Linked DNA regions of Homo sapiens. The protein of the gene in region 2 interacts with the protein of the main gene of each other region in a pairwise test. Each region holds a gene or a part of one and is shown on either strand. Other genes may lie near its edges.

What was found. The genes of interacting proteins can lie anywhere in the genome.
Region 1: the proteins of HIVEP1 (region 2) and UTP4 interact in binary tests that used the Homo sapiens proteins (3 or more experiments, as listed by UniProt).
Region 3: the proteins of HIVEP1 (region 2) and CACNA1A interact in a two-hybrid assay, tested with the Homo sapiens proteins (one study listed by BioGRID and IntAct).

What each region holds. Positions count from the first base shown.
Region 1 is NC_000016.10:69,127,548-69,135,732, forward strand, and holds the start of UTP4 (U3 small nucleolar RNA-associated protein 4 homolog), read left to right. Parts: upstream 1-5,101; 5' UTR 5,102-5,142; intron 5,143-5,910; 5' UTR 5,911-5,912; coding exon 5,913-6,071; intron 6,072-8,185. UniProt on the Homo sapiens protein: Ribosome biogenesis factor. Involved in nucleolar processing of pre-18S ribosomal RNA. Part of the small subunit (SSU) processome, first precursor of the small eukaryotic ribosomal subunit.
Region 2 is NC_000006.12:12,155,287-12,162,495, forward strand, and holds part of HIVEP1 (zinc finger protein 40), read left to right. Parts: intron 1-6,152; coding exon 6,153-6,643; intron 6,644-7,209.
Region 3 is NC_000019.10:13,293,396-13,300,604, reverse strand, and holds part of CACNA1A (voltage-dependent P/Q-type calcium channel subunit alpha-1A), read left to right. Parts: coding exon 1-55; intron 56-1,251; coding exon 1,252-2,061; intron 2,062-7,209.

The sequences.
Region 1 (8,185 bases), on a different chromosome or scaffold from region 2:
ATACATGAAGTCAAGAAACTAAAAGAGAGTCAGTGGAAGAGCTCTCCCGGCAACTTTTTTTTTTTTTTTTTTTTTTTTGTGAGACAGTGTCTCCCTCTGTTGCCCAGGCTGGAGTGCAGTGGCTCGATCTCAGCTCATTGCAACCTCTGTCTCCCAGGTTCAAGTGATTCTCCTGCCTCAGCCTCCCAAGTAGCTGGGACTACAGGCGCCCGCCACCACACCCGGCAACTTTTTGTATTTTTAGTAGAGACAGGGTTTCACCATCTTGGCCAGGCTAGTCTCGAACTCCTGACCTCAAGTGATCTGCCCACCTTGGCCTTCCAAAGTGTTGGGATTACAGGCGTGAACCACCGTGCCCGGCCAAATTTCTCTTTCTTCTTTTTTTGAGACAGAGTCTCACTCTGTCACTCAGGCTGGAGTGCAGTGGCGCAATCTCGGCTCACTGCAACCTCCGCTGCCCAGGATCAGGGGATTCTCCTGCCTCAGCCTCCCGAGTAACTGGAATTACAGGCACCTGCCACCGCGCCTTGCTGATTTTTGTATTTTTAGTAGAGATGGGGTTTCACCCTATTAGTCAGGCTGGTCTTGAACTCCTGACCTCATGATCCACCCGCCTCGGCCTCCCAAAGTGCCAGGATTACAGGCGTGAACCACAGCGCCCGGCTAACTATCTCTTAAGAGCAGAGTTCAACCCCAGATTTGGCTAGGACTAACATGTCTTTCGTTAGGAACAATAATTCTAGGTTGACAAGGTTAACTGCAGAGCCAGGGAGAGACTTCTGTGATGTAGCTTTTCAAAAAGATTTAAATTCATTATATTACAGTGTGGTATCAGACTCACAGGCCACAACTCATGTGTAGCCTTGGAAAGATAAGAAGGTATAAAGAAAACCAAACCTTTCCCTGCAATAAATTATGTATCCTGTCCCCAATCTCATGAGGAGGGAAAAAAGTTTTCTACTTGATCTTTATGGGCCTTCACGCAGCTAAATGAACTAAACAATACATAAATTCTGTATTCCTAAGTTAGTCAAACGACTTTATCTCAGTAAAGGAAACTTTTTTCCCCTCAAAAAGGCACCAGCATTCAAAGAATCAATCCTGACCCACAATGGGAACCCTACCCAAAACTAAAAAGCTTTGGCTGTAATCAGACCACTCTAGAATATACCTTATTTAACCAGCATTTGGCTTCTCTCTCTCTTTTGAAATTAGTAACTATTATTATAAAAAACCCGCCAGGCACGGTGGCTCACGTCTATAATCCCAGCACTTTGGGAGCCCAAGGCGGGTAGATCATGAAGTCATGAGTTCGAAATCAGCTTGACCAACATGGTGAAACCCAGTTTCTACGAAAAATACAAAAATTAGCCAGGCATGGTGGCGCTCACCTGTAATCCCAGCTACTCAGGAGGCTGAGGCAGGAAAATCGCTTGATCCTGGGAGGCGGTAGTTACAGTGAGCCGAGACTGTGCCACTGCACTCTAGCCTGGGTGACAGAGCAAGATTCCATCTCAAAAAACAGACAAACTGAAACAAAACAAAAAAAAAACTGGCAAATCAAAGCACCACCATGATTTCTTAAGAAAAGCCCAGGCAGAGGCCGGGTGCGGTGGCTCACACCTGTAATCCCAGCACTTTGGGAGGCCGAGGCGGGCAGATCACGAGGTCAGGAGATCGAGATCATCCTGGATAACACAGTGAAACCCCCTCTCCAGTAAAAATACAAAAAATTAGCCGGGCGTGGTGGCAGGTGCCTGTAGTCCTAGCTACTCAGGAGGCTGAGGCAGGAGAATGGCGTGAACCCAGGAGGCAGAGGTTGCAGTGAGCCGACATCACGCCACTGCACTCCAGCCTAGGCAACAGAGCGAGACTCCGTCACAAAAAAAAAAAAAAAAAAAAAGGAAGAAAAGTAAAGTCCAGGCAGAACATTATTTTTATAATACAAAAGGCTTCATTTCTCACAAGCTAGCCTCGTTCACTTATCTGTATCCTCTTATTTCACCCTGACACCCTATGCTTTTAGCAAGGTCTTCTCACTCCCATTTCACAAATGAGGAAACAGGCTTAGAGGAGCTAAATGTTAACTGGTCACACAGCTACTTAAGTGGAGAGCTGGGATATGAACCCTAACCCCTCCACAATCTGGCCCCTCTTGCAGTTCTCCTCACACAGCCCCCTCCTGTAAAGCACCTCTGTATGATAACTTCCCTTGCTTTACAAATATTAGCCTCGTTCTCACAGCATCTCTTACAAAATGGCAAAGTAACCTATGGAAAGACCTTGTAACTTGCCACCAAAGTATTATATCTGTGGGGTAGGCAGCTAAAAACAAAGAAGCAGCTTGCTTTTTATCATACCCAATTGAGATGTTTCAGTTTTTGAAACTTTTAGAAAAATCTACTCAATGCCACCTCTAGGACGCAAAGCTTTACCCTCTGCTCCTGAATGTGAAAGTCAAGAGAATAGAGGACATTCTTTGTCAAGTATTCATTTTAATCTTCCACAGAATTTAATTCTTACCCTCTGGTCTCTGAATTGTTAAATATTAAATTGTTAAAAGATTACTGTCTTACAGAGAACAGAACAGCCTGAGCAATGATCCTCATAATCCTTCAAAATAAAATGTGGCAGAAGAAAGTGTGATATGTATCCAATTAAACCGAACATATGGCTTATAGCAAAAAAGAGGCTTTGACTCAACGGTTTAACCTCAATACAAATAACTAAATTTTAATAAAGCTAAACAACGTTTTAGAAATTTTGTTTTTTTTTCAAACAGGAAACCAAGCCTTTAAATTCTCAACCCTTAAACATTCTTTTCTAAACTGGGGTGAAATCAATTATTTCAGAGTGTAAATATTCACAATTTTCTATTTTTTGCTAGGCCAACAGTTGGCATTTATTGAGCTTTTGTTTTTTGATCCCAGGGTGGATACTTTGTTTACGAATATAGTGAAGCACTCACTTGTCATACAGACCTGGATTCTGTGATTTTGCCACCTATCCCATATGTGACAGTGGGTAGTTTAACCTCACGTGTTTTCCTAACAATACACTGGGCATAAACACCTATTTTGAAAGGCTGTTGCAAGAACGAGTAATGAATGTAAAGCTTTTAGCACATTGTCTGACACATGGTAAGCCTTCAGGGTCAAGCTATCGATTTCCCAGAGAAAGGTGGCATTTTCTTAGTATTCATCAAATAGAATGTCTTAATACTACACTGTGTTAGCATATTAATGTTTATAACGGACTAAAGCATTCTACGAAAGCAGCAGGTCATCAGAATAAAATCAAGTTTTCATAACAGTAGAATTCAAACATGGCAGTTGTGGTTCACCAAACTGCTTCAGGGATTAAGTTCTGGAAGGTAATTTCTCTAAATATGATGACTATGTCTCTATGTGCCTTTCTACCAAGTGAACAACTCAGAACGTTTTACATACAACCGAATACAGATTATTTTTATTTGTAGTGTTATCGTGGTTTTGTAACTGAAGGGGACAGGTCTATACTTTTGAAGGGGATCTTGTCTCTTGAAAGGCTTATGTTACTAAGTCTAAAATCCTGTTTCCAAATGAGAATCTTGCTCCCCTCCAAAAAGGGGCTTATGGAGGGTTGGTGGAATTGAATGCTTCCAAACTTTACATTAGTGAAGTGTGTTCAAAAACGTGTGTGGATGCTATGCATACACGTGATACTTCCCATCACATTTTAGGATTCCCACGTTGGAGGGAATCAATTACTGGTATTTGTAGCAATGGGTGGAAAAGATGGCTTCAGTCGATCTGAGTTACTGCAGTTTTCTCCATCTTCTGCTACTCTGCAGCCCCATCTTAGCCTGTCCTCCTCTTAATGGTACGGCCCCCTGTACTCCCCCAAACCCTTTCCTTTCTAGCCCGGCGTAGAGTCTCCCTCTGTGCTCTTCCTCCCACCCACCCCCATCTTCTCCACCCACTCCCTCTCGGCCCCCTCCCACCCTTTCTGCTAGAGCTACAAACACTTCCTATTTCTAGTCCCACCCACTTTCTGGGACTTCTCAATCCGCTTCCCCCCTCTTCTCCACCCCCCTCCAAATTACAAGCTGTTTTAACCCCTTTTCCTGCCTCCCAGGGAAACTATTCTTTAAACCGCCTTCCTCCACACCACCCACTGGAGTGGTCTTCCAAACCGTTCACCCTCTTCCCAAAGATTACTCTTTAAACGTCCTTTCTCTACCACCCTCGTTCTCCAAATTGTTCCCGGTTCTCAAGTACTCCACTCCTCCAGGACCCCACCCCACTCGTCTCTCGGCTTCCCTCCCACAAAAGAACCTGGAATGACTCTCCAACCACCCTTCCAATTACCTCTCCCAGAAGCCTCCCCCCTCCACGATTACAAATGTTACCTGGAACAAAACCTCACGGTCCTAACCCCCACCCCGAACTCCCCTTTCTGCTCTTCCCGCTACTTCCTAGGTTCCAGTTCTACTCCGCTCCCGCAAGCATAGCGGGCTGGGCTCCCTCCCAACCCCGGGAAGAGCCCCTTCCCGCACGTACCTCGAGATTCCGGCCCTCGCCGCCCCCTTCTCCGTCCTCCGCCCGCGCTCGGCCACCCTTTCCGCCCTTCTCCCGCTCCGCCCCGCTCGCTCCCTTCCTTCCCTCCGCCTTCCGTCTCCACACCGCTCCCTTCCCCCACACTCCTGGCCCTCCCACCCCGGAGGCCCCTCCGGGCTTGCCCCCACCTCCGCGCCGCCCTCCCGCCGCCCTCCCCCTTCCCGGCCACCCCTCCCCCGCCCGCGCTCCCCGCCCCTCGGCTCGCCATTCTTCTCTCCGAGCCGCGCGCCCCGCCCGGCCCCGGCTCCCTAGCTTCCCGCTCCCTCGCGCCCTCGCCCCCAATCCCGGCTCGGCCCTCGCTCCCCGCAGCCTCCCGTGCCCCCCGCCCGCGGCCTGACCTGCAATGGCGGCCGCCGAGCGCGGCGCCGCGCGGCCAACGGGCGACAACCGAACCTCCCGCCGCCGTCGCCGCCGCCGCGAGCACTGCCTGCGCACTTCCGACTATGCGCCAGGAGCACTTCCGGGGCAGAGCCTGAGAGCGCGCGCGCACGTGGGGCCGGGGCGGAGAGAGGCGAGCACCGGGAAGGGGAGCGTGGGGCCGCTGGTGAGTTGGGGAAGGGGCGTGGGAAGCGGCTGCGAGAGCTGGGGGGGTCTTACAAGGTGGCCGGCCCAGGGTCGGCGTCCGGCTGAGCTCCTTGTCCCGAGGGTCTCCTTGTCCCGAGGCGGGGTGGGGGCTACTCTGTAGACTCGGGGAGAGGGAAGGGGAGGCGAAGACCGCGCGCGCCTCAGACGCCCCGGCCCGACCGAACGCGCTTGCTCTGTCTGCGGGTTCCTAACCTTGAAGCTAGGCCAGTGAGGGGCGAACAAGACCTGGTCTCTACTCTCGGCCAGTATATATGTTGGCGGGCGTCGGGGGGACGGGGTAGGGTAAGTGACAGACGTCAGACCAGGCAGCCAGATTAAGTCAAACCCTGTCGTTTCTTCCTCAAGAGGAGCTCGGTTCTGCCTGCCCCATCAGCCTCACTGTCACTACCTCAGTTTAGGTCTGTTGTTTGCAAACTTAGCAATAGAGTTGAGGAGAGATGCTTGCTAAAATGCGGATTCCTAGGCGCCCCGAGATAGGAACTCTGGAGCTATGGAGTAGGACCCTTTTTGATTTTTTGCTGAAGCCTCCTTATTATTCAAGCCATTCTGAGCTTTTGAAGATTGAGTAATTCTTGTGGGGGGCATTGTTAGCAGCCATTTGGAAATGAACTTCAGGGAGATGTTGTTGGAGCCTTCCAGCCAGAACAGTGATATTAAGGAACTGAATACTATATGTGACATACTGCAGTTAACATATAGCAATAATGACTCTCTTTTCGCCCCCTAGGAATGGGTGAATTTAAGGTCCATCGAGTACGTTTCTTTAATTATGTTCCATCAGGAATCCGCTGTGTGGCTTACAATAACCAGTCAAACAGATTGGCTGTTTCACGAACAGATGGCACTGTGGAAATTTATAACTTGTCAGCAAACTACTTTCAGGAGAAAGTAAGTCATTTGGGAGTCTGATATGGTGTTTTGATGTTAATTTCTTCTGAAGTTCAAGAAGCTTGTATGTCTTTTATAATCAAACTGATTGAGTGACTTCCTAGCCCCTCTGAAGTTGCTTAGAACTACCAAACTTCTGAGATCTCCTAACTGATAAGAGAAGCTCAGTTTCAATCTGTGTAATGTTGATTAGAAGGGTCCTACCTAGAAATGTGACATCTCACTGCCTGTCATTGGAAACTGAGGTTTGCTGGATCTTTTGGACACAGGAAGGGAAATTGTTGGTATATCAGTCTCAACACCATTGCAGCTTTGGTAAGCAAAATTTCCTGCAGGGAGTATCAGTACTGTTTCATTGTCAATTCAGAAAAAATGATAACACGTTTTAATATCAGAAACTTTTTGGTGATGTGGGAAGATGGATTCCAAAGTTCATCTGTCTGAGAGAATGTAGACCTACATGTCTACATTTGGGAGTAAAGGAGATTTAAAATTAGGTAAAATGTCCTTTGGGTGTATGCAGAGGTCTATTAGTCCTTTTTCTTCTCCCCTCCAAGGGCACTGACTAGTGATTTTCTTCGGGTGCAACATCTTAGTTCATGTTGAATGACTGTTATGTACTGGGTGCTGTGATATAAATGAGTAGATGGGCAAATGAGTGAATTCAGTGCCCAGCAGCCTGGTACCTGGAATTTAGGCATTCTGTAAATGTTTCTCGGTGAATGAGTGGCAAATACTGGGCACTAAGACAAATGTCAGAGGCCCTAACTTTACGGAGCTCAAAGACCAGTGGGAGAAAGATAAGTGTACAGTTTCCAACCTGTAAAATAAATATGATAAACCGAAACACAGGCATAGAACCTTCATTGAATTGCCTTCAGGGAAGGCAATTCAGAGAATTGCCTTCCCTGAGAGGTGGGTTTAGGAAATGTGGAAAGGGATGATTTACTGAGCTCACCCCTGAAGAACTAATCAAAAGGTAAAAACTACAGGACCACCACAAATGGGTTACATTCTGTGGTATGAAGAACATGCGCTGGCGTGTGCTTATTGCATCCTGTGATTTTCTTTTTTTTTCTTTTTCTTTTTTTTTTTTTTTTTGGAGACGGAGTCTTGCTCTGTCACCCAGGCTGGAGTGCAGTGGCGTGATCTTGGCTCACTGCAACCTCTGCCTCCCTCTCCTGCCTCAGCCTTCCAAGTCGCTGGGATTACAGGTGTGCCACCATGCCTCGCTAATTTTTTTATTTTCATAGAGACGAGGTTTCACCATGTTGGCCAGCCTGGTCTCGAACTCCTGACCTCAAGTGATCTGCCCACCTCAGCCTCCCAAAGTGCTGGGATTACAGGTGTGAGCCCTCATACCAGACTGATTATCTTTTTCTTGGTCTTGTTCTTCTTCTTTTTTTTTTTTTTTAACAGTCATGGCCATATTATGATTTTTCTGTTTGTCATTTGTAACAGTTATAACTATATAATTTGTGTGTTTGTTTAATGTCTTTCTTCCATGCTGAACTTCCAATTTTATGAGGATAGGAACCATGTCAGTGATACTCACATCTGCATTCCCACCATTTATCAAGCGCCTCCTACAAAGCCACTGCTTAATGTTTCTTGAATGGATAAGTCAACCATTCCTTACCTAGTGTTCCTTATTTTCTTTTCTCCTTCATCTGTTTTCTTTATTCTTCAACAATTAATTAACTCAGGCTGGTTTCCTGCTTTCCCTATATTCCCTTTCCTACTAGATACGATTGCTTAGCTCTGTCAGTGACTCTCAGAGCAAGAAAAAATTAGTACGTTAAAGTGAAAAGAGGCAGGGCAGAGTGGCTCACACCTGTAAACCCAGCGCTTTGGGAAGCCAGGGCAGGTGGATCACTTGAGCCCAGGAGTGTAAGACCACCCTGGGCAACATAGTGAGACCCCATCCCTAAAAAAATAAATAAATAAATTAGATAGGTGTGGTGTTGTATGCCCATAGTTCCAGCTACTTGGAGGGTTGAGGCGGAAGGATCGCTTGAGCTCAGGAGGTTGAGGCTACATTGAGCCAAGATCGTGCCACTGCACTCCAGTCTGGGTGACAAAATGAGACCCTGTGTCAAAAAAAATAAATAAAT
Region 2 (7,209 bases):
GTGCAGGGTGTGCAGGTTTGTCGCACAGGTAAACGTGTGCCATGGTGGCTTGCTGCACAAACCATCTCATCATCTCAGTATTAAGCCCAGCATTTCTTCCTGATGTTCTTCCCCCACACCCCTATCACCCCCCAACAGACAGGCCCCAGTGAGTATTGTTCCCCCCAATGTGTCCTCGTGTTTTCGTCATTCAGCTCCCACTTATAAGTGAAAACATGCGGTATTTGGTTTTCTCTTCCTGCATTAGTTTGCTGAGGATTATGGCTTCCAAATCCATCTATGTCCCTGCAAAGGACATGATCTCATTCTTTTTGATGACTGCAGAGTATTCTATGGTGTACATGCACCACGTTTTCCTTATCCAGTCTATCATTGATGGGCATTCAGGTTGATTCCATGTCTTTGCTATTACGAATGAACATATGCATGCATGTTATCTTTATAGTAAAATGATTTCTGTTCCTTTGGGTATATACCCAGTAATGTGATTGCTGGGTCAGATGGTATTTCTGCAGAGGTCTAGGTCTTTGAGGAATCACCACACTGTCTTCCACAATGGTTGAGCTAATTTACACTCCCACTAGCAGTGTCAAAGCATTCCTTTTTCTCTGCAACCTCTCCAGCATCTGTTATTTTTTAACTTTTTAATAATAGCCGTTCTGACTGGCCTGAGATGGTATCTCATTGTGGTTTTGATTTGCATTTCTCTAATGATCAGTGGTGTTGAGCTTTTCTTCATGTTGTTGGCTGCATGTATGTGTTCTTTTGAGAAGTGCCTATTCATGTCCTTTGCCTGCTTTTTAATCGGGTTACTTTTTTTCTTATAAATTTGTTTAAGTTCCTTGTAGACTCTGGACATTAGACCTTTGTCAGATGGATAGATTGTGAAAATTTTCTCCCATTCTGTAGGTTGTGTGTTCACTCTGATGATAGTTCCTTTTGTTGTGCAGAAGCTCTGCAGTTTAATTAGACCCCATTTGTCAATTTTTCCTTTTGGTGTTTTCGTCATAAAATCTTTGCCCGTGACTGTATCCTGAATGATATTGCCTAGATTTTCTTCTAGGGTTTTCATAGTTTTTCATTTTACATTTAAGTCTTTAATCCATCTTGAGTTAATTTTTATATATATTGTAAAGAAGGGGTCCAGTTTCAGTTTTCTGCATATGGCTAGCCAGTTTTCCCAGCATCGTTTATTAAATAGGGACTCTTTCCCCCCATCACTTCTTTTTGTTTGTTGAAGATCAGATGGTTGCTGGTGTGCAGTCTTATTTCTGAGTTCTCTATTTTGTTCCGTTGATCTATGTGTCTGTTCTTGTACCAGTATCATGCATGTGTTCTTTAATTCTGCAATAATTTGATGGTTTTTCAGATATCCTCCAATTAATTGATTTCTGGTTTAATTCTGTTTTCATGTAAAAACACACTCTGTATGGTTTCTACTGATTTTAAATAGTTGAGGTTTATTTTGTAGCTCAGAATATGGTATGTACTGGTGAATGTTCCACATACCCTTATATAAAAAGTATGTTCTGCTGTTGAGTGGAACATTTCTATAAATGTCTATTAGGTCTTGATAGTGTTTTGCGGGTCTTTTATGTTCTTCCTGATTTTCTATTTATGTGTCCCATTAATTACCGAGAGTGGATTATTGAAGTCTTCAGCTCTGATTATGGATTTATTTTTTTCAGTTTCCGCTCCTTTATTTCGAAGCTCTATTGCGTACACACTTAGGATTGTTATGTTCATGGGATGACCTATATCATTATGTAATGCTCCTGTTTATCCTTCATAATATTCTTTGCTCTGAAGTCCACTTCGTCTGATATTAGTATAGTTTCTGCAGCTGTATTTTAGTTATTGATTTATGGTATATCTTTCCCCAAACTTTTATTTTCAGCCTACTTATGTCTTTATATCAATATTTAAAATGCGTTTCTTATATACAGTATATACATGGGACTTGCATTTTATTCAGTCCTAGTCATTTCTGTCTTTTAATTTATGTGTTAGACCACCCCTTTTAATGTTATTATTTGTGTAATTGGATTAAAATGTACCATATTGGCAACCGTTTTCTGTTTGTTTCATTTTTGGGTTTCAGTTTTCTTTTGATGCCTTCTCTAGTATTAACTGAGTGTTTTTTATGATTCTGTTCTATTTCCTCTACTGACTTATTATTTATACTTTTAAAAAATTGTATTTATCTACCTTCAGATAATATTACATTGCTTTACATGGAGCCTATAGACTTTACTGCAGTTTATACACAGCTCCTTCTTTCCGTGCTTTATGCTATTGTGGCCATACCTTTTTACATTTACATCTACTGTGAACGCACAGTACATTGTTTTACACATTCAGGTATCTTTTAGAGCAATTAAAAAATAAGAAAAAAAATTGTGTCCCCATTTATTCTATTTTCACTGCTCTTTGTTTGTTTGTGTAGATCCGGGCCTCCATCTGATGTTGTGTTCCTTCTGCCTGAGGAACTTCCGTTTAACATTTATTGTCCACTAGGTCAAGCAGCTGGCAATGAATCCCCTCAGTTTTTGTTTTTCTAAGAAAGTCTGTATTTCTCTTTCATCTTTGAAAATTATTTTCAATGGGCATAGAATTCTGGATTTAACAGTTTTCTTGATATTGTTACCATATTTTTTATTTGCACCATTTTCATTGGATTCTTTTTAATAGTTGTCAGCACTCAGCTGAAAGTCCCATCTGTTATTGTCTACCTTTCCCTTTAGAGCCTTCAAAATATGAACCATAGTTATTTTAAATTCTCAGTCATTTCTAACATAGGTGTCATATCTGACTGTGGTTCTGATTATTGCTTTGTCTCTCTGAAGTATGTTTTTTTCTTGCCTTCTTGTATGCCTTGTAATTTTGTGTTGAAAGCTGTACATCTTGTGTAAGACAGTAGAGACCCATGGAAATTGTTTGTATCCTAGAAATGTGCATGCCTCTCCTTCCTAGAGGCCTTTAGTGTGGGAGTTAGAGTTTATCTAGTTAGGAGTTTGCTAGGTTTGAGAGATTTGTTGGCAGCTATCCTCACTGCAGGAAAGGCTTCATGTTCCTGTAGAGATACCTTGTGTTTTGGCTGGGGGTTGGATCACAAGAACATCACCTGTTCAGTTCTAGTTTTAGGTCTTCCTTTTGCACTATGCCTCAGAAAGGGTCTCTCTGCACATTCTTGTTCTCCTGTTTCTCTCCAAGCACTGTTTTGTTACCTGTAATGCTAAGCTCCTTAGCTTGACATTGTGGGGCAAGGAGGAGGATGGGGTGCTGTCTCTGTTCCGATTGAGTTACAGTCTCGTACCTGCACCATTTTCTTAGGTTTCTGGGCTGTGACCTTCTCAGTTCTCCTCCCTCTCCCCCAAGTGTTGTGGGAGTTTCTGTGTAATCCTGTCCCTCCCCAAGGAGACAGGTTGTATGTGTATGTTTTTCCTGTTCCCTTTCCACACTGCAGTGAGTTTTCAGCAGTGTCCTAAGGACAACAGTGCGTGCCGCCCTTCTCCTCACAGGATAGGTCTTTTGTTTTCCTGGTGGAGACAGGGGAGATGGATCCAGGTGTAGTTCCTTGCCACTCCTCTAGAGTTACTGCTTCTCTCCCCCATATCTGGAACACAGCGGACACTTCTTACCCCACCCTCCTGTGAGCACCTGGGTGATGGTCATGGCATAGATCCTGTGTGAGAATGTAACCCTCAGAGGTTTCACACAATCTTGGCAGCCCACTCTTGACTCTAACCAGATACTTGAGCGGGACTCCCCTGACTGGGGTTCTGTTGTGTCTGCCCTCGGTGACACAAGCTTGTGTCTCCTTAGATTTTGGGCTGTTGATTATCTGGGACCTCGGCTTATTGATGGGTTTGGAAAAAGTTAATAAGTTTAAAGTTAGGCTGTACGTGTGTGTGTGTGTGTGCGCGCGCGCGTGCACGTGCACGCTTGTGTGTGTGTTTAACGTAAACAGGTCCCATCCTTGTTAGACTTTACAGCAAGAGCAGCCTTGAATGAAATCATCCTTTCTCTCCAGTAACTTATTCTCCCAGTCATTCAGTTCTCTTTAGTCTTTTTACAAATTTTACTTCTTTAAAGAAGATGCGTCTCCAAAAAAAAAAAATACCTAATTTGCTACTGATGTGGCAAATTCAAGTCAAATTGAGGATGACTCGAATTTTACAATGCCAAACAATCCTGATGGCCAACTGTCTTATTCTTCCCCAGGGCCTTCTCCTCAGCCAGGGCGGAGGCTCGTTGTGGGCAGGGTCCTTGTCTTTTATAATCCTCGCAGAGTTGCCAAACCTATAAAAAATTTTTAAAATAGGCAAGGTAGAGAAGTAGCTGAGGTGCAGGAGTCTGGGTATTTACCCAGAAATCACACATTCTGTCTCCAGCATAGGCCCCTAGAGCCAGTCAATACTTTGGTATTATTTTATTTCATTACTTATTTTACAGCATAATAGTAGAACCCTAAAAGCAAAAGCCTTATGAAATCACATGCTAACAGAACCTAAATGCATGTTTCATCTTAGAGTTTTTTAATTATAAAAGTAGCACACGTTTGTGATAAATAATGTAAAATGTCAAGTTCTTTTCATCCCCTAGAAATAATCACCCTCCAATCTTTTCTATGGGTCTTCTAAGGCTTTTCTCTAAACTCATTTTTGTCATATACAAAGAAAAAGTAAAAAATTAATATCTAGGCCATTTGGGAAAGGCAGCCTATTGCTTGTTGCTCTGTTTACATGTTTGTCTCTTTTCAAAAAAATACCTGTAAGTGCAGAATGTATCACAGCTAAACTGTACATTGTCTAATGTCATCTTTATTATATCTCAGTGACATTCCTCCCCCATAACTAAATTTTATTAAGCTTTCAGTGGGAAAGAGCCTCTAATTTGCAAGATTTTGAAAATGTGAAGAGTTTAAAAGTTCCACATGAGCTTATGAGATTTTTGAAACTATTTCCTGGATCATCTTGAAGATTCCTTGTTAAACTCAGTTTCACATGATGTTAAGAGGCTGATACTAACGACTTTTAGATAATATCCCCCTTTCTATGAGGAATGGGTTGAATCATATCACAGAAGAAATTGACAGGAAATTGTAGCATCTCTCTGAGTAAATAAGAAGGCTTACACATTAGGTGAATATGACGACACGGAGGACCATTGAAACATGCCTGTGTCAACCAAAAGAAGAAGCTAAAGCACAAAGTGTGGTTGAAAGAGTTGACTTGAGCCAGAATAAGGACAGCTGCCCAGATGACTCACCCAAACTGCTTGCTTGGCCTTTGTTACAGGCAGATTTTTAAAGGCAAAAAGAAAAAAACAAAAACAAAAAAACAGGAGGCAGGGGAGGGGGGCCGGTGTTACCGAGTAGACTGTTAGACAGTTCTGTCAGGAATTCTCATGGATATACAGAAGTAACAGTGATTAGTGACTGCCTGTCCACGGTTAAGCTATAGAATGTGGGATATAGTGTCCAGTGCCACATTACTAGGTTAATTCACAGCTACCTGTGGCAATGGGAAGCAGCTTCAGTAAAGTGTGGAGTAGGATGTGATTGCTGTCTCATCTTAATGCCTCTTTGGGGCCTAGTAATTTGAAAGGGCCCACATTCCTCAGATAAAAGTCCTTTTCTTTCCTCATCTATAATACTATTCAAATCTAAAGAAAATGTATGTTGCTCACAGATACCAACAGCCATCAGTTTTTTGTGTTTGATTTAATTTGTTCAGTAAAAGGAAGATACAAAATAGGGAAAAAGCTCAGGAAAAGAGTTGCGTTGAACTCTTTATTAATTTTATATGTAGTTCAGTTGTGTTTTAAAGATTTTCAAGTGCAATCTTAGAGGCCTTCATTTCCTTGTTTCTTGATTACCCTCCACCTGCCTCATTCCCCTTCTGAGAGTCATTTCCCATTCCTCGTCCCTGACCCCGGCCCCTCCCGCAGAGCTGCCCTCCTCTGAATCCTGATGGCCAACTGTCTTATTCTTCCCCAGGGCCTTCTCAGCCAGGGCGGAGGCTCGTTGTGGGCAGGGTCCTTGTCTTTTATAATCCTTGCAGAGTTGCCAAACGTATAAAAAATTTTTAAAATAGCACTTGTGCACTTGGAAAGCATTCCATCACATACCTCTTGGTTGTTTTTATTAGATGAAAAACAGAGATTCAGTTATGAGCGATCTGGATATGATCTTGAAGAATCTGATGGCCCAGATGAGGATGACAATGAAAATGAAGACGATGATGAGGACAGCCAGGCTGAATCAGTCCTGTCAGCCACACCCTCAGTCACAGCTAGCCCGCAGCACCTTCCATCTAGAAGTAGCCTTCAGGACCCTGTGAGTACTGACGAGGATGTCAGGATCACCGATTGCTTTTCTGGGGTACACACGGACCCAATGGACGTTCTGCCCAGGGCGCTGCTCACCAGAATGACTGTCCTGAGCACAGCACAGTCTGACTACAATAGGAAGACACTCTCTCCGGGGAAGGCCAGGCAGCGTGCTGCGAGAGATGAAAACGACACAATTCCGTCTGTAGACACTTCCAGGTCCCCGTGTCATCAGATGTCTGTGGACTACCCTGAGTCAGAAGAAATTCTGAGAAGTTCTATGGCAGGAAAAGCTGTTGCTATAACACAGGTAAATGATTGGCAGTTGTTCTTTTATTTCTTTTTTCGTTTTAACCTATTAAATATGGAGAACTTAATGGCTTAAGAAAATAATGCACTTAAGTGATTTTTTTAGGCCAAATCAGTTTGTATAGCTTTATTTTTTTCTTGTATTTAAGGGTAGAGGGTATTTTTGCCCTTTGGAGTCTTGTTGAGTATCTTAAGCAGTTCAGATATTTTATTGTAAATCTATGAAAGAACCAAATGGTTCTTGAAAAATACACCCATTTATTTTTATTTGCTTTTTGAAAAATTTTTGAAATTAAAAAAAAAAAAAAACGTGACAGTGGCGAACACAAGTCCCGCAACTGATTTATCTGCTGGCCCCTTCTGAGCAGTTTCTCCACTGGTGCTGATGTGATGATGGATTTTCACTGACTTACCCAAACATTTTGCACTTTGCCCCCATTGGCAAGACAGCTACCAGTTTCTATGGCAAAGTTAATGTGACCCGAAAACACATCAAGAAGTTCACTTTGCTTGAATTATCACATTGCTACAGCAGCTTGGGAGAGCTTTCTGCCCAAGAACTATCTC
Region 3 (7,209 bases), on a different chromosome or scaffold from region 2:
CCAAGGAGGTGGCAGAAGTGAGTCCTCTGTCCGCGGCCAACATGTCTATAGCTGTGTAAGTGCCCCTAATCCCTGGGATGCTACCCTGGCTCCTGAACGTCCACACTATCCCAGGCACAGATTTGGGAAGCAGTGGGGGTGGTCCTTGACAGAACTGAGCTTTAGGAAGAGACACTTCTTGTCCTTCCACCCACTTTCACTCAATAAATATTTGGTTAGCAGCTGTTATGTACCCAGCACTGTTCTAACTTCTGGGGATACAGCATTAACAAGGAGGAAAAAAAAAATCCCACCTGTGTGTAGCCATTCTAGCAAGGGAAGGAGTCAATAAATTAGATAAATAAGTAAATTATATATTGTGTTAGAAGGCGATGGAACTACAGAGAAAGTAGGGGAGGGAAATAGCAAATGCTGGGAGTGAAGAGAGTTGTGATTTTAAACGAAGTTGTCAGGGAAGGCATCACCTAGAATAGGGGTCCCCAGTCCCGGGGCTGTGGACTGGTACCAGGCCGAGGCCTATTAGGAACGGGGCTGCACAGCAGGAGGTGAACAGTGAGCAAGCAAGCATTACCGCCTGAGCTCCACCTGCCGTCAGATCAGCAGGCAGCATTAGATTCTCATAGGAACACAAACACTATTGTGAACGGTGCATCTGAGGGATCTAGGTTGCGTGCTCCTTTTAAGAATCGAATGCCTGATGATCTCAGGTGAAACAGTTTCATCCCAAAACCACCCCCCACACCTAGGTCTGTGGAAAAACTGTCTTCCACAAAACTGGCCCCTGGTGCCAAAAAGGTTGGGGACTGCTCACCTAGAAGGTTACATGGCCTGAAGGAGGTGAGGGAGGAGCCACTGGGGGGCCTGGGGAAGGGCATCCCAGGCAGAGGGAACAGCATAGGCAATGGCCCTGAGGCAGGAACATGCCTGATGTGAAGGAGGCCTGTGTGACTAGAATCGAATAGTAAGTGTGAGGAGGTGAAGGCAAGGAGGTGACAAGCAGATTACACAGGGCCTTCTGGGTCAGGGGGGAGGACTTGGGCTTTTGCCCCTAGCCAGGTGGGAGCCATGGAGGGTTCTTGAGCAGAGGAGGCTGGGACCTGACTCAGATGCTCACAGACTCCTAGCATTCAGTGGGGAGTAGAGGGTGGAGAGCAGGAGTGGGAGGCTGAGATGTGGGTTGGTTCGCCTGGGTCATCCATCCAAGCTACAGTGCCTAGCAATGCTCTAAGTCCTGTGACCATGCCACTGCAGGAAAGAGCAACAGAAGAATCAAAAGCCAGCCAAGTCCGTGTGGGAGCAGCGGACCAGTGAGATGCGAAAGCAGAACTTGCTGGCCAGCCGGGAGGCCCTGTATAACGAAATGGACCCGGACGAGCGCTGGAAGGCTGCCTACACGCGGCACCTGCGGCCAGACATGAAGACGCACTTGGACCGGCCGCTGGTGGTGGACCCGCAGGAGAACCGCAACAACAACACCAACAAGAGCCGGGCGGCCGAGCCCACCGTGGACCAGCGCCTCGGCCAGCAGCGCGCCGAGGACTTCCTCAGGAAACAGGCCCGCTACCACGATCGGGCCCGGGACCCCAGCGGCTCGGCGGGCCTGGACGCACGGAGGCCCTGGGCGGGAAGCCAGGAGGCCGAGCTGAGCCGGGAGGGACCCTACGGCCGCGAGTCGGACCACCACGCCCGGGAGGGCAGCCTGGAGCAACCCGGGTTCTGGGAGGGCGAGGCCGAGCGAGGCAAGGCCGGGGACCCCCACCGGAGGCACGTGCACCGGCAGGGGGGCAGCAGGGAGAGCCGCAGCGGGTCCCCGCGCACGGGCGCGGACGGGGAGCATCGACGTCATCGCGCGCACCGCAGGCCCGGGGAGGAGGGTCCGGAGGACAAGGCGGAGCGGAGGGCGCGGCACCGCGAGGGCAGCCGGCCGGCCCGGGGCGGCGAGGGCGAGGGCGAGGGCCCCGACGGGGGCGAGCGCAGGAGAAGGCACCGGCATGGCGCTCCAGCCACGTACGAGGGGGACGCGCGGAGGGAGGACAAGGAGCGGAGGCATCGGAGGAGGAAGTAAGTGGAGGTGACCTCGAATCCGCAGAATGACGGTAACATTAATAATGACAACAGCCAAAGTAGCACGTGCTGTGTATTTGTTTATAAAAATATATTATAAAATGCTGTATTTGGCCAGGCGCAGTGGCTCACGCCTGTAATCCCAGCACTTTGGGAGGCCGAGGCGGATGGATCACGAGGTCAGGAGTTCAAGACCAGCCTGGCCAAGATGGTGAAACCCCACCTCTAATAAAAATACAAAAATTAGCCGGGCACGGTGGCAGGCGCCTGTAGCCCCAGCTACTCAGGAGGCTGAGGCAGGAGAATCGCCTGAAAACAGGGGGCGGAGGTTGCAATGAGCCGAGATCACACCACCGCACTCCAGCCTGGGCGACAGAGTGAGACTCTGTCTCAAAAAAAAAAAAAAAGTGCTGTATTTGGCCAGGAGCAGTGGCTCATGCCTGTAATCCCAGCACTTTGAGAGGCCGAGGCGGGCGGATCACTTGAGGTCAGGAGTTGGAGAACAGGCTGGCCAACATAGTGAAACCCCGTCTCTACTAAAAATACAAAAATTAGTGGTGGTGCCCACCTGTATTCCCACTACTCAGGAGGCTGAGGCGGGAGAATCAGTTGAACCTGGGAGGTGGAGGTAGGTTGCAGTGAGCTGAGATCGTGCCATCACACTCCAGCCTGGGCAACAGAGCAAGACTCTGTCTCAAAAAAAAAAAAATGCTGTATGTTTTTGTTTTTTTGACACAGGGTCTCGCCTGTTGCCCAGGCTGGAGTGCAGTGGCAGTCATAGCTCAGTGCAGCCTCTACCTCCCGGGCTCAAGCCATCCGCCTCAGCCTCACAAGTAGCTGGGACCACAGACATGTGCCACATGCCTGGCTAATTTTTGTAGAGACAGTGTTTTGTAGAGACAGGGTTTCACTGTGTTTCCCAGGCTGGTCTCAAACTCCTGAACTCAAGCATTCCGCCTGCCTTAGCCTCCCTAAAGTGCTGGGACTACAGGGTTGAGCCACCACACTCAGCCTAATTTTTTTACCTTTAGTAGAAATGAGGCCTGGCTCTGTTGCCCAGGCTGGTCCCCAACTCCTGGCCTCAAGCAATCATCCCACCTCAGTCTCCCAAAGTGTTCGGATTAGAGGCTTCACAGATGGGGAAACTGAGAGATTGAGTGAGCTCCTCAAGGTCATTCCTCTAACCAGTGTCCTTGAACCCAGGCTCTCTGGCACCAGAGGCCTTGAGCATTTCAGGGAAACTATTAAGAGAAGCCCCACTGTCGTCCAGAATTATATAGTCTTCTGTGTTCTTGCTGTGTGACTTTTGCAAAGTGACTTCATATCTCTGGGCCTCACACAATGGAAATAGTGGGATCTAATTGGGTCATTGCCAGGATTGAATGAGGTAATGTATGCAAAGGGCCTGGAAGAGCAGCTGACACATAATAAGTGCTCGGTAAATTTAGAGCATTTTTGGCCATTTTCAGCCAACTCTATTTACCTAATGCTATTCTTTGGAAGTTTGAAAAGCCACTCTGTTGGGAGGCCAAGGTGGGAGGATCACTTGATACCAGGAGTTGGAGACCAGTCTGGGCAATAGAGGCAGACCCCATCTCTATAAAATATAAAAAATTAAACAGATGTGGTGGCATGCACCTGCAGTCCCAACTACTTGGGAGGCTGAGGCAGGAGGGTCACTGGAGCCCAGGATGTCTAGGCTATGATGAGCTATGATTGCACCACTGCACTTCAGCCTGGGCGACAGAGCAAGGCTTTGTCTCAAAAAATAAAATAAAAAATAAAGAAAAAGAAAAGGCACTTTGGGCCGTTAGAATTGAAGGGAGAGCAGAGTTTCAAAGCTTTGGATGCAGCGGGATGTGGTGGCTCATGCCTGTAGTCCCAGCACTTTGGGAGGCCAAGGTGGGAGGATCCACTTGAGCCCCGGAGTTCAAGACCAGCCTGCGCAACATAGTGAGACCTCACCTTTTAAAAATAAATAAAAATGTTAGAAAGCTTTTGAGGCATCTTCCAGGCCAGCAACTTATCCATTCAGAACCAGCATCCTCTTTTTCATAACGACATTTTGTAATACTTTCTAGCAGATGCTATAGTGATTCTGCATATAGGGACTCAACAACTTACCCATTAAAATAGACATCGTAGACATTGTCCTATTACAAATTAACCTGCTCTTAGTCCTCTTTTATATTACCATCAGGGCATAATATTGATTTTTTTAATGATGGGTTTAAGTGATCCTGTTGTATGACATATGAGGTAGGCCAGCACTTCTCAAAATCTAATGTGTATGTGAATCCCCAGGGATCTTGTTAAAACACAAATTGTAATTCCGTAGGGCTAAGGACTCAGTGGAGCCTGAGATTCTGCATTTGCAACGAGCTCCCAGATGAGGCTGATACTACTGGTCCAGGGACCACATTTTGAGTAATGAGACTCTGGAGGACATAGTGAAGTAATTCTGATATGTACACCATACACAAAATCACCATGAAGTGACAGGCACAAATGATGGCTAACTCTGGGTTGTGTGGACAATTCAAACCACATGAGGGGAGTTGCCAGCAGTGTCAAGATGTTCCACAATGTTGAACACCTCTTGGCAAAGTTCCATATACAAAAGAGTCTAGTCTTTCTTCCATTTATTTAATAGTTGCATTGCAGGAAAATGCAATGTATATTAAAAACATACAAAAAATATGTTGTGTTCTTATGTAAAAGAGTTAGGTTTAAACTAAAAGCACAGGATCAGGTGCAGTGGCTCCCACCTGTAATCCCAGTGCATTGGGAGGCTGAGGAAGGAGAATCGCTTGAGGCCAGGAGTTCGAGACCAACCTGGGCGACATAAGGAGACCTCGATCTCTACAAAAGAAGTTTTTTAATTAGCCAGGTGTGGCGGCAGGTGCCTGTAGTTCTAGCTACTTGGAAGGCTGAAGCAGGAGGATTGCTTGAGCCCAGGAGTTCAAGATTACAGTGAGCTATGATTATGCCATTGCATTCCAACCTGGGCAACAGAACAAGTCCTTGTCTCAAAAAAAAAAAAAAGAAAGAAAGAAAGAAAAAACCCAAACAAACAAGCAAACTAAAAGCACAGGTAATTACAAGCAAGATTTTTCACCTCTTTGAGGGACATTAGAAAGTCATGAAGAGGAAAAGATAAGTCTTTCCCATATGGGACTGTCATGTACATGGTAGGGTATTTAGTATAACTGCCTACCATTCTCTAAGTGCCTGCAGTGCCCCTCAATCATTATGTTATTAGGTTTCCACGTAGTTCTACAACAGTTTTCTGAAAACCATTGTTCTAGGTCATTCTTTCGCTTCAATCTTCTCCTATGGGTTTATGCATTCATTCAGTTAGTATTTACTAAGTGCCTACTATATTCTAAGCTCATGCTGTGAGTTCAGTCACACAACTGCAAGTGAAGTGGTCTGAGACATTCTGAGAAATACGACCAAGAAACTGCTCCCAGGGTCTCAGGGCAGGTTTCCAGAGGAGCAATCTGAGAAGGGAGTAGAGTGTTTCAGTCTAACAACAGCATGTGCAAAGGCCCTGGGGTGGACCAGAAGGAGGCCAGTTTGCAGGACATGACTAGTGACGAGAAAGTGACAAAGAAATTGAAGGTGCATTGATGAGACTCTGGGGCTGTCAGTCACTCAGGGGAATGAGAGATCAAAACGGGAGTTTAGGTGGAATAAAGTGTTTACCACAGCACTCTCTGTATAGTAAAGACCAATGAAGAGCCAGGTACAGGCCAGTGTGATGGTTCACGCCTGTAATCCCAGCACTTTGGGAGGCAGAGACAGGTGGATCACCTGAGGTCAGGGGTTCAGAACCAGCTTGGCCAACATGGCAAAACCCTGTCTCTACTAAAAATACAAAAAATTAGCCAGGCGTGGTGGTGGACGCCTATAATCCCAGCTACTCAGGAGGCTGAGGCACAAGAATTGTCCTGCGAGGCAGAGGTTACAGTGAGCTGAGATCACACCACTGCACTCCAGCCTGGGCAACAGAACAAGACTCTGTCTCAAAAAAAAAAAAAAAAAAAAAAAGCCAGGTACAGTGGTATGCACCTGTAATCCCAGCTACTCAGGAGGCTGAGGCAAAGGATTGCTTGAGCCCAGGAGTTCGAGACCAGCCTGAGCATTTAGAGAATGGGAGGCCAGTATACTAAATACCCTACCATGTACAAGACAGTCTCATATGGAAAAGAATTATCCTTTCCTCTTCATGACTTTCTAGTGCTCCTCACACAGGTGAAAAATCTTGCTTATAATTATCTGTGCCTTTAGTTTGTTGGTTTATTTAGGGTTTTGTTTGTTTTTTTTTTTTTTTTGAGGCAGGGTCTTGCTCTGTTGCCCAGGTTGGATTGCAGTAGCATTGCTCATTTTAGAGATGAGCAAGACCTCATGTCTAAAAAAAAAAGAAAGACCAATGATTATTAATTACTCTTGCTATTATTACTAATATTACTGTTATTATCAGCCTTATTAACAGATCTACTGTTATTGAAGGAGGCAGAGTGACAGGGACAAAATGTCTCTCCCTAACAATATGCCAGGAAGAGTTTTTGAAAGACAACAGTAAACATTGGAAACTACAAGAGCAGCAAAGCCTGGTTGTGAAAGGCAAGGACTTTGGGGCAGGCAGTCACATTCCTGCCCTATCACTTCCAGGCTGTGTGACTTTCAGAATTTCACTCCTCTCTGGGCCTCCATTTCCTCATCTATAAAATGAAGATAAGAATAGTAGCTACCTCCTTCTCTGGGTATAAGATTTAACTGAGCCGGGCGCGGTGGCTCATGCCTGTAATCCCAGCACTTTGGGAGGCCGAGGTGAGCGGATCACAAGGTCATGAGTTCAAGACCATCCTGGCTAATATGGTGAAACCCCATCTCTACTAAAAATACCAAAAAAAAAAAAAATTAGCCGGGCGTAGGTGGTGCACGCCTGTAGTCCCAGCTACTCGGGAGGCTGAGGTAGGAGAATGGTGTAAAACCCGGGAGGCGGAGCTTGCAGTGAGCCGAGATCGCACCACTGCACTCCAGCCGGGGAGACAGAGCGAGACTCCATCTCAAAAAAAAAAAAAAAAAAAAAAAAGATTTAACTGAGTTAGTACGTGTAAAATGCTTTGAGTGGTTCCT